Homo sapiens: one gene and its partners. The protein of the gene in region 2 interacts with the protein of the main gene of each other region in a biochemical or structural test. Each region holds a gene or a part of one and is shown on either strand. Other genes may lie near its edges.

The links.
Region 1: the proteins of LYN (region 2) and GAB3 form a complex in vitro, tested with the Homo sapiens proteins (one study listed by BioGRID).
Region 3: of the proteins of LYN (region 2) and CD72, one has a biochemical effect on the other in vitro, tested with the Homo sapiens proteins (one study listed by BioGRID).

Annotation. Positions count from the first base shown.
Region 1 is NC_000023.11:154,674,627-154,678,108, forward strand, and holds the end of GAB3 (GRB2-associated-binding protein 3), read right to left. Parts: 3' UTR 3,443-3,482; coding exon of another isoform or gene 3,365-3,442; 3' UTR 1,120-3,364; coding exon of another isoform or gene 1,114-1,119; 3' UTR 623-1,113; downstream 1-622.
Region 2 is NC_000008.11:56,008,750-56,012,502, reverse strand, and holds part of LYN (tyrosine-protein kinase Lyn), read right to left. Parts: intron 2,596-3,753; coding exon 2,393-2,595; 3' UTR 1-2,392. UniProt on the Homo sapiens protein: Non-receptor tyrosine-protein kinase that transmits signals from cell surface receptors and plays an important role in the regulation of innate and adaptive immune responses, hematopoiesis, responses to growth factors and cytokines, integrin signaling, but also responses to DNA damage and genotoxic agents.
Region 3 is NC_000009.12:35,611,758-35,615,510, forward strand, and holds part of CD72 (B-cell differentiation antigen CD72), read right to left. Parts: intron 1,237-3,753; coding exon 1,091-1,236; intron 163-1,090; coding exon 47-162; intron 1-46. UniProt on the Homo sapiens protein: Co-receptor of B cell receptor (BCR) that plays both positive and negative roles on B-cell functions. Recognizes the Sm/ribonucleoprotein (RNP) self-antigen ligand, and coligation of CD72 and BCR inhibits BCR signaling.

The DNA of each region.
Region 1 (3,482 bases), on a different chromosome or scaffold from region 2:
GTAGGGAAAAAGTGTTCTTGATTGGCCTCATACTTCACCAGGGGTGAGGGATTTAATGTGGCTTTTTGTCCTTTCTCTAGGTCCCAGGATCCCCCAGGCCTGTTCTCTCTATGCCTTTGGCCTGTTTCCCCCAAACCTGAGCCCGCCCCCTCCCTACTTTCTTTGTCCTTTCCTTGTTTCACGGCCTCGAGATGCCACTGACCCAGCACCCAGGGCATCTGGGAGACTCAGCTATGGAGAAAAGGGAGGTGGTGGCAAAAGAGATGCCTGCTGGGGCAGGCAGGCGTAGGGCAGTTACCTTCTCATGCAAGTAATCACGAAGGTCATGTTATACATGGTGTCAGGGAGAGCAGTTGATTTTAGTGTCAATTATCAAAGCGAGTTTCCAACGAAGAAATTAAGAAAATGACAAGATATGGTTTGGCTGAGCCGAAGCAGTACTGATTACAGACACCTGCTCAAATGTTTGCAGTGAAATAACATGCACGTGAATCAGGTTAAGTTTGTTGTACTTCAACGTAAAAGTGGTTATGAAGTCCATTTTCAAATATTCCGCTTTCAAAACATGTTCCTTATTTATATTGGATGTCATCAGTTAAATAAAAAAGAACTTAAGTCACGATTTCTCCTTATAAGACTTTTATTAATGCCAGAAATGAAACAGCAAAAACAAAATGAATTTGAAAAATCAGTGTGATTGTGGGTGCAGAGATGGTATGAACAGGGACTGAGGAAAAAGCCAGGTCTGAGGAGAGCCTTCAGTTTCAACTCGGAACTTTTAAAGGTCATGATTCAGCTGATCCTGTGAAGTGGACTGTACAGTGGGTAGGTCGCTTCGTGTCTTTATAGCCAGGCTGTGTGCTGGACATCAAGGCTCTTCCCTCCCCAAGGAAAGCTTAACTCCCAGTGCTCCTGGGTTTGTCACCTTCTGGACTTGCAGGCTTGAGACCCTTGGGTCCCCCGTCCTGCACTGGACGACCCCTGACTGGGAGGAATTTTCTAACGAGGTGAGACAGAAGAAAATGAAACAAAAAGGAACTACAGAAAACGATGTGGGGTTAATTGCTGCATTGCCCTGTTATGCTGATTCCCACATCTTGTAGGTCTCTGGGATCATTTCTGTAACAAACATTAGGCCCTTGGTTAGAAACATAGCTCTCTCTCACACACACACATCGATCATCTCCACCAAAACCAATATTTTGACTTATGGTGCCTTTGCTGCTGTCAGCTCAAAAACTACCTGTACTTTGTTTCCTTGAATCGTTATGCTTTTGCATAGCCATCCTCTAGCAGTTTTATCAAAGCAGGACATAATTGCCTACACTCTGGAAATGAGGGGTGAGTCACCTTTTTCAAAATTAAATTTTTAAAATTCTGACCCCTATCGCCTTCCATACCTTTAATGTAGAGAGTGCCTATTCAGAGCATTCCATTTTTAAGTAATCACATCCAAACAGGTCACACTACCCATGTGTGTTTCTTCATGCTATAAATACGTTTCTGGAAATGTTTGGTAGAAACAGATTTCTTTTCTTTTTTCGGTGGGTCAATGGAGTGACATTTCACTACTGACATAATTTCAGCTATTCTTTTCTATCTCCAATCTGGTGTGGTTCTTGACACTTGGGCCTACAATTTTTTTTCTGCACCAGCCTTTGTCAGATAATCAGTGATCCTAACACAAGTGCTCCACACGAGGGAACTACCCTCCATGGGAACTAGCAGTTTGAAGCCCTGGTTTCTTGCCTGAGACTCTTTGCAAGTCACATGGGGAAGAAGGCAGCTCCTCACAGGCTCTGGCTGTGTGTGGTGATGCAGAGCTGGCTGTGGGGCTTAGGGAGTGGGGAGCCCTCTCCTTGCTCTGTCCAGGCTCACTAAGGACCCTGAACTCAGTTAAAATACTTAGAAATTTCCCCCCACTTTGTCCAAGGAAGAAAATAATGTCACCAGAACCTGCTTCTTTGAAAATCAAAACGGCTTCTTTGAAAATCAAAATGACTTCTTGTATGGTCTGAAAAAAGAAGACTTTGGCATTCACTTACCTGTGGGGTGATTGGAAACCCTGAAATCCTGTAGCAAAGTCTACAACTGCCCCAACTGCACTGACTATCATGGGCCTGACTGCCAATTTGATCTATCCTCATAAAGAAGACACAATCTCAGTCAGAATGCAGGACCAGTATCTGCTTAGTTTCCAGCTGTAGGTGCTCAGAAGGATCAAGAATGGACACTAAATAACACTTCATGCCCAACTGACACCTTCATTCTGGGTCTCCTGGACCCCAGGACCTGTAAAGGAAGGGGTGACATGACGCCTTCATTATAAAGTGGGAGTGTTTGTACTCTCAGTACCTAGTCACTTCTAAAGCAGAAGGGAGCAATTGGCTGGGAAACCTAAGAATGGAATTCATAGGTTTTTTCCTGGTCATTGTGTCTGCTAGCTCACAGGGAAACACACTGTATAGGTGACCATGAGAATGGCCTTCAGACTAACCATCAGTAGGTATTTCTAATTGTAACTACTGATGGGAGAGTTCCAGTTGAACATCGCAGAAAGAAACCCTCACTTGACATGCACATCTTTCAAGTATCAAAACACCTGTTCAGATCCCTATTGAAAGGGAGACAGGATGACTACTCATTTTGTGTCTGCAGGTGTTTCCCACATGTCTCCAAGGCTCACCCAATTAATCCATTTTGTCAAAATCCTCAGAGGAAGTATGAGGTAGAGGAATGAGCTTGCAATTGGCAGCCTGAACAACTCTATTCTCTAAGCTGGACTCTGGGTCTTGGCTTTGTGAGTAATCTTGGGCAAAGTGTTCCCTCCTCTAGTTCTCAGTGTTCTTTTCTTCAAAGTGGCATCAACAGTCTCTTCCAGGCCTATCTTCCAAGGTCTTTCGGAGAAGACACGAGACGATGCGTGGGAAAAGGCCAAGAGCAGCAGAATACCTGGCTACAGGTAGCTGCTTAATTGCAATATCCTTAGAGCCACCAGTGTCATCTGATATACTTATCTCAGAGCCTGAGATCCATTGCCCCTGTCACTTGTCTTTCTTTGGGTATTGAAATGACTAGTCTGCTGAAGTCTGTGGAGTAAGATTCTGCCACCATTGCTGGGCTTGATCTCCTCAACTGTCTTCAGAGGCTGGAACAAGATGGTCTCCAGAGGCCCCTTTGCTAGGATAATTTATCATTCTCATTGAAGCACAGGAGAGAAGTCAGAATTTCAGGTATTGGAGTCAAACGATAAAATCCTGTTGGTGGCAACACTCACTCCAATCTTTGCTCCAATAGGACAGAGGGGAGGCTAGATTCTCTCAGAGCCCCCTCCGGAAGGCAACTGCTTCCTTCTTTTCTTCCTTCAATGTATAAACAGGTCTTCTTTCCTAAAGGTTCTGGCCAAGACCTTGAAAACTACACATTCTCTCTTGGTTTTGACCTGTGTTGACCATCAGTGTGTTTTTAGTGGACAAAAAAAA
Region 2 (3,753 bases):
ATCCTCCTGCCTTAGCCTCCCAAAGTGCTGAGATTACAGGCATGAGCCACTGTGTCTAGCTGACTGGAGAAGCTTTTAAAATAGACTGACATACATCTCCCGCTGCACAACAGCTAAGTCAGAATCTTGGCGGTAGGGAGTATGGATTCTGTCTTTCCAGTTCTCTACAATAACCTGAGGTGTGATGACATGAGCCATTTTGCACACCACTGGATACCCGAAAATGCTACAAACACCTATTCAGCCCCTCATTATGCCTGTCTGTCACAGGGAGGCTGGAAACCTATAGCTAAGTAAGGAGACTGTGTGTGCTGTTCATCAAGGGAACGTGTGACTTCCACACATGCTGGACACCAGAGATGAGGCCCAAGCTGGTGAAGGGCCCACATGGAGGTAAGGATCACAGGCTTGATTGGGAGGGAAAGACAAGTGGAAAATGGCAAGAAGAGGAGGAACTGGGAGAAGCAAAACAAGGCGAAGATAAATTTAATAATTTTCTTTAAATAAATTTGTTATGCTAAAAAAAAAACCTCTAGTCATTTTCTAGAGACTTCTTTTTGCCTTAGGGATTCTTTATAGTTCCTCTCCATGTAACATATTGGGTAATACTTGTGGTTCTGAAATAAAATGCAAGCAGGGGGGTGTACACAAAAACCTTACCACTGAATCAAGGGACCAGCTGTGCAGACATTATGTAACAGTAATATTCTATAGTTCTGAACATGGCACTTGTGAATCAATAATTTTAGAATATTTTAGAAAGGACATTTAAAAAAATCACATAGGAAACAAAGTTAAAATTTAGAAAAAAGTAGAATATTTTATCCCATCTTCTAAGCACCTCAAGCCTAAACAAAACACACAGAATGAAATTTTAATGATGCCTGTTAAGCCTATTTGAAAACAAATTCTATCTGGCCCCCATAAACGGATGTTCAGGTGTTCAGGCAATCAACTCCTTGGTTCTCCAATCTGAAATGTTCAAAGGAAGGAGGTAGAACTTGGGCAAGTTTAAAGCATGTAGCTCTGTTGAATCACTTCTAACCACCCCGCCCCCAGCTGATGACCAATTTTTACACTGACCACAGCTGAAAATGTAAATGCAAATAAAAAGCTTGAGATGTTATTGGACGAGGTGTATTAAAATAAAATCAAAAATAGAAATATTAGGTATATACACAACAGCATAAGTGAAACACATCATGTGATACAGAAGTTTCCATTCAAAGCTTACAGGAGAAAAATTTAGTGAACAGAACCGCTTGAACCTCCTGCCACCGTGGCTTATTAGAGCCTTGTAGTCACTTATGTTCCTTCATATCCTTGGGTATAAATAGTCTCATACACATGCTACACAATTTAGAAAAGATTGCTGAATCATAAAAATAGCCCCGAATGTGGCACTTTAGCTTTCTAGAGTACAACTAAAATTAATACTTGATCTTTAACATAATGTTCAAATATTTGAAGCAACAAAGGAAACTCTTATGTTTTAGAAGGCCCTATAAGGTTCTTCAGAGATTAGAATCTTAGTTCTTCCAAACTACATTGTCAAAACAAATCTGGATATAGGAAATTGTGGAAATGAAAAAGCTGGACTCTTAAAAATATTCCTTCTAAACACAGAGCAGTTTCTGAGGCTCTTCTCCCTTTCCTGGGAGGTCCAGGTGAGCCCGGTGCCTTCGGGTGAGCAGACAGGGCAGCTGTGCGTGCTCACGGGCTCCTCCTGCTGGAAGAGAGAGAGATGTGCACGCCACTCCTATGGCATGTCTAGCAGGTCTGAGCAGTGTTCATAGAAGAAAAATGTTTTAACAGTCTCAGATTTTGGGAGGTAGGGGGAAAAAAATCATTGAAATCTGGGAAAGACATTTTTAAGCTGCTGACTTCACCTGCAAAATCTAACAGGTTGGATTAGTTTTTTTTTTTTTTTAAACAAGTAAGCCAAAGCACAAAGAAATGTCATGCTATGTATATATCCGGTTATTTTAGCTTTATAAATGAGTTTAGTTCTGCAATTATTGGGGATTCATTGCAATGGTCTCTGAAACTTTGAGTCCTATGTCCATTTGTAAACATAGAGCTAGTTGGGTGCATTTTTGGAGAGAATAGATGTTTTCTTCTCAAACGGCTGCACTCAGATGTTGTCAAGCAGAGCAAGATTACCAGCTGCTGAGGACAAGTCCAAGTTGCAACTGAGTGGAGAATCCATCTAAGAGTACAGAATACTTTCCCATTTAGAGGGTGTTCTTCCTGAGTAATTTAGCCTCTATTTCAGGATCCAGGCACGGCAGATGATCCCCGCACATGAAATCATAAGTGCAACCAGTGATGGTTACTTTTCCTCTCTAAATGAGGCAGCCACCCCTGCCAAATGGACGGGTCTCCCTGTGCTCTAAGGCTGCTGCTGGTATTGCCCTTCCGTGGCTGTGTAGAAATCATCCAGGACGCTCTGTAAGTAGTCAAACGTTGGTCTCTCTTCTGCCTTTTCTTTCCAGCACATTTTCATAATGTCATAGAGCTCATCTGGGCAGTTCTCCACACGGGGCATCCTGTAGCCCTGGGACAGGGCGGTCATCACGTCGGCATTAGTTCTCCCTAGGGTGGAAAAAAACAAAAAGAACAGAAACCCATGCCGTTTAGAAACCTGGCAGAGGGTCAAGCACTGCAGTGGTCTTTTTGCTCCTCACATCCTGTAACCATGATTGAAACAAGCTTTACTGAGGCTGTTAGGGGTTGAACAGCATCCTCCCAAAATTCCTAGGTTGAAGTCCTAACCCCGCGTACACCTCAGAATTGACAGCACCATATTTAGAGATAAGGCCTTTATAGAGGTAACTAAGTTAAAATGAGGCCATTTGGGTAGGTCTTAATCCAATATGACTAGTATCCTTATAAGAGGAGATTAGAACACAGACTAGTATAGGGGAAAGACCATGTGAAGACACAGGGAGGAGGCAGCCATCTACAAGTCCAGGAGAGAGGCCTCAGGAGAAATCAACCTGGCTAGCACCTTGACCTTGGACTTTGAAACTCCAGAACCCCGGAAAAATAAACGTCTGTTGTTTAAATTACCCAGTGTGTTGTATTGTTATGGCAGCCCTTGCCAACTAATATAGAAGCTAAGGAAATTTCTGCAAGCAACTCAATAAATAAATTTAGCATGGAGGGGATCAAGACAGCATTCAGTTTGCCAAAATTTGTTAAGTAGGAGCCACAGCCAAGTTCTCTTTAATAACAAAAGGATATTGGACTTGCCTCACATTTCAAATAAATCACCCAAATCTAATCCTAACTCTCAACTTTAATTATGTTTGCAGGGTAGCATGCTTTCAGCTTCAACTTGTAGTATATTTATGAAAAAAATAATTTTACCACATATTATCTTATACGGACATTTTTCAAAAATTGGCTTTTCATTTAATAATTGGTATTTTCATTTACTTAAAGTCAGCACCCTTAAGTCAGCCCAACAAATTGGTTACATGCTTGCCAAATAGTTAAAAACTTAGGGATTAATTTGGAAAATAATGATGGTTCAGTTAATCTGAAGGACACTTGTCTGTAGTTTGTGCTACATATCTTGTGGATGTCACTGTCTTTTAAGAGCAAGATATTAATTGAGGAGGAAAACTGAACCCCAATCATAGTCTCAAGTGGAGCTACTTCACAGACGCAGTTAACTGTTCCAATCTGCAGTACCTGGCCAGAGTGACAGCTCACTCTGACTCTGGATTTGCATATTCCTGACCTCCA
Region 3 (3,753 bases), on a different chromosome or scaffold from region 2:
AGGGGATTATGGAGTTGAAAATACCCAGAAGTCCTAACAAACTTACCTAGTGCGTTGTGTATCATCAGTCAACTTCCAATCCTTGTTAGAGCTGAGGCCAGTCCAATATGAATTCCCTGAACCACCATTTGGCAACAGTGAATTTAAGAAGTAGTAAGAGTGCTGAGGGGAGATTCAGAGAGACCAGAGATACATGGAGAGTGATGAGAAATATGGAAGAAAATGCACACCCTAGGGAGGCCTCAGCTTTGGCAAGGGGGCTGTATATATGACAGCTCTTTGGTAACTTGTCCCTGAATCCATCAAGTGCCACCCTGCAGATGCAGGCTCACTGCTAAATTTGCCTTCCAGCTGAGTAAGAATCTCTGCCAGCCTTTGGAGGGGAGTCATTCTGTGTGCTGTTCTGGCCCCAAGGAACTAATCCCTACAATCCAGCCCACCAGGTGTGGGACCTCTCTGCCTGAGAGGCCACAAGAGTCCAGGAACCTGTCAAGCAGCCCAGGGAGCTGACCAGCAAGCTGAGATGAGATACACATTAAAGTAGAGGCCGGGCGCAGTGGTTCACACCTATAATCCCAGCACTTTGGGAGACTGAAGCAGGTGGATCACCTGAGGCCAGGAGTTAGAGACCAGCCTGACCAATATGGTGAAACCCCGACTCTATTAAAAATACAAAAATTAGCTGGGCGTGGTGGCATGTGACTGTAGTCCCAGCTACTCAGGAGGCTGAGACGGGAGAATTGCATGAACCCAGGAGGCGGAGGTTGCAGTGAGCTGAGATTATGCAAGTGCACTCCAGCCTGGGTGACAGAGTGAGACTCTGTCTCAAAAAAAAAAAAATGTAGATATGGTTAAGTTTCCATTCTCATGCCAACTCTAATCAGTTACTAGGGGCTGCCTGGACCACTGTGCTGAGAAGATGCAGAGGTTGTTTCCAAGCTCAGAGGTCAAGAGTATTATGATTCTCAGTTTCTTCCATGGAAAAGGAATGGCCACCCCAGCCATGTGTGCACTGCCATTCCTGACTTGATGACATATGTCCCTTTACCTAATAGTACCCACTGCAGTCTGTGAGTAAGGATATGCTTACTGATTGTGGATAAATTTCACTGAATGTGGCCAGCTTGGAAGACAGAGTTTCACATTGTTTTTGGCTCTCCTGCCAATTTTTTGAAGTAAGTGAGATGTAAAAGCAGCTTTTCTGATGCATTATCCATCCCGACGGACAGCAGGTGTCTAAAAAGCAGAAAGAGTGTGATAGCAGCAACAGTTGGGATGAAAGTGACTACTCAGCAATCTTTTGCTAACAATATTCCCCCAGAGCTAATCTCAGCACCTTCATGGACTTCTATGATCTTTGCAATCTTTCTTTTGCATCCCCTGGAAACACCATACCTGTCCTTACTTAGTAAAAAGACTTTAACATTCAACAACATTACTTCTTAGCAATCTGGGAGGTCTGTCTTAATAGGGCTGATTTTATTACCCCAATTTCTGAACAATTGCAGTCCACCCTGACACTTTACCTAACATCTCTTGGGCCCATCTCCTCCACTCCCTAAAGCACCCCTCACTGCACATCCTCCACTCCTCCAGCACTGGCCCCCTCCGTCCCTCTCCAATTTCCTACAAGCAGAAAATGTTGTGTACTGTTTTGCAGAAACTGAGCTCTCTCCTTTTCCCTCCTCTCCACCTCAAAATTTCTCTTCTCTGTTCTTCTTTTCCTGACTATCCATAAGAAATAAATATCCCTCTTTCTTCAACATCCTACATCCCAATGTGCACTTCTGATCCCAGGCCACCTCTCTCCATTGCTTTGTTCCATCAGTCCTACCTTCATCACTCAAAAATCATTCCCTCTCCACTAGCTCCCTCTCTTCTCTCTACATATGCTCATGTCCCCACCCTGCTACTCCCTTGAGCTACTGTCCTATGGCAACTTAAAGGAATAAAAAGAAATCCCTGCTGGGCACAATGGCTCACTTCTGTAATCCCAGCACTTTGGGAGGCCGAGGCGGGGTGGATCACCTGAAGTCAGGAGTTTAAGACCAGCCTGGTCAACATGGTGAAACCCCACCTCTACTAAAAATACCAAAAAATACCCAGGCACCATGGCGCATGCCTATAATCCCAGTTACTCGGGAGGCTGAGGCAAAAGGATAGCTTGAATCCAGGAGGCAGAGGTTGCAGTGAGCCCAGATCACACCACTGCACTCCAGCCTGGGAGTGCACTTCAGTCTCACAGAGCGAGACTCCGCCTCAAAAAAAAAAAAAAAGAAATCTGTATGGCCAAATGGAAGAGGGTGAGGAGATAAGTGGCACACTGAAAGGTAGGCAGGAGTGATGGAAGCCATGTTAAGGATTTTTATTTTTATATTATGAGGAAGAGAAAGTCAGTGTAGGGTTTTACATAGAGGAATTTTGTTCACTAGCTATATCCCAAGTGCCTGGGCACAGTGCTAGAACATATTATATGTTATGTATTCCATAACTGTTTATGTAATCAATTAACTGGAATGCTGTAGATTGGGTGACACGATCAGATTTTTGTTTGTAAAAGATTACCCTGGCTCCAATATGAAGAATGGACTGCAGGGAGAGGAGTGAGTAGGAAAAACATTTAGAAAGCTGTTGCAGATATCCTTGCAAAAGATGAGGATGGGCAAAAATCCATATGGATATATAGACTTGGTGATGGAAAGTGAAGGGAATTCCTCTCTGAAAGAGTGGAAGATGAGGACATCTGCTGAAAGTGAGGGAGAAGGAGTTACTATGGAGAGCAAGCTGACCATTGCAAAGGTTGCCAGGCAGTGCTGAGAGACTAGAGTCTCAGTGGCACTGAGCAGAATGATTCCACAATTTGTCACACCTTGATGCTGACCATGGGCAGTTGGGTTCATCCAGAGTTCAAATTTTGCCCATCAGGTACACTAGAAGGATAATGGAACAAAGAAGTGAGTGAGCCAGGTGCGGTGGCTCACGACTGTAATCTCAGCACTTTGGGAGGCTGAGGCAGGAGGATCGCTTGAGTCCAGGAGTTCGATACCGGCCAGGGAAACATAGTGAGACCTTGTCTCTATTTAAAAAAATAAGTGAGTAGTTGAAGTGATGGGCTCCAAACCCATGTTAGGTAGGGAGAGAAGTGTGGACAGGAGAAGCTGATGGGAAGAGAGAAAAAGGGGAATCAGTTGATTGGAGGCCTGGACTGATGGGAAGGGAGAAAAAGGGGAGTCAGCAGATTGGAGGCCTTGATGAGATCAAAAAAGTGTGGGGAAAACCTGCAGGAGTGGTGGGCAGCTGTGATCAGAGTGGAAGTCTGAAACCATCCTTTCGCCGGAAGAGCAATTTGGGAGGTAGAGGTCTAACATGCTGCTAAGAGCAGCCCTGGCATGGAACTGATGGTCACAGAGGGTAAGGTTAAGGAAATGAGGGCAAGGGGTGTCTGCACATAATCTTGCTGTCTTATGCCTGGGGAGATCACCCAGATGACCCCCAAGCTAGACAGAGCCTAAACCTGATCATAGCCCAAAAACACCCCAGTCCCCTTAGGCGTGGCACCTTGCCTAGACCCTCAGCCTGTTTTGATACAGCCTTGCCTCTTTTATGTGTCCCTTTCCCCATCTCCACTTACTGGCTGGGGTCCTGCTTTCAAAATGAATGGACACCCCATCCTAGTTCCCTACACCACAACTCCCAGCTCCACCTCACTGTGAGTGCTGAGCGCCTCACTGCCTTGCCCCACCACCAGGTTGC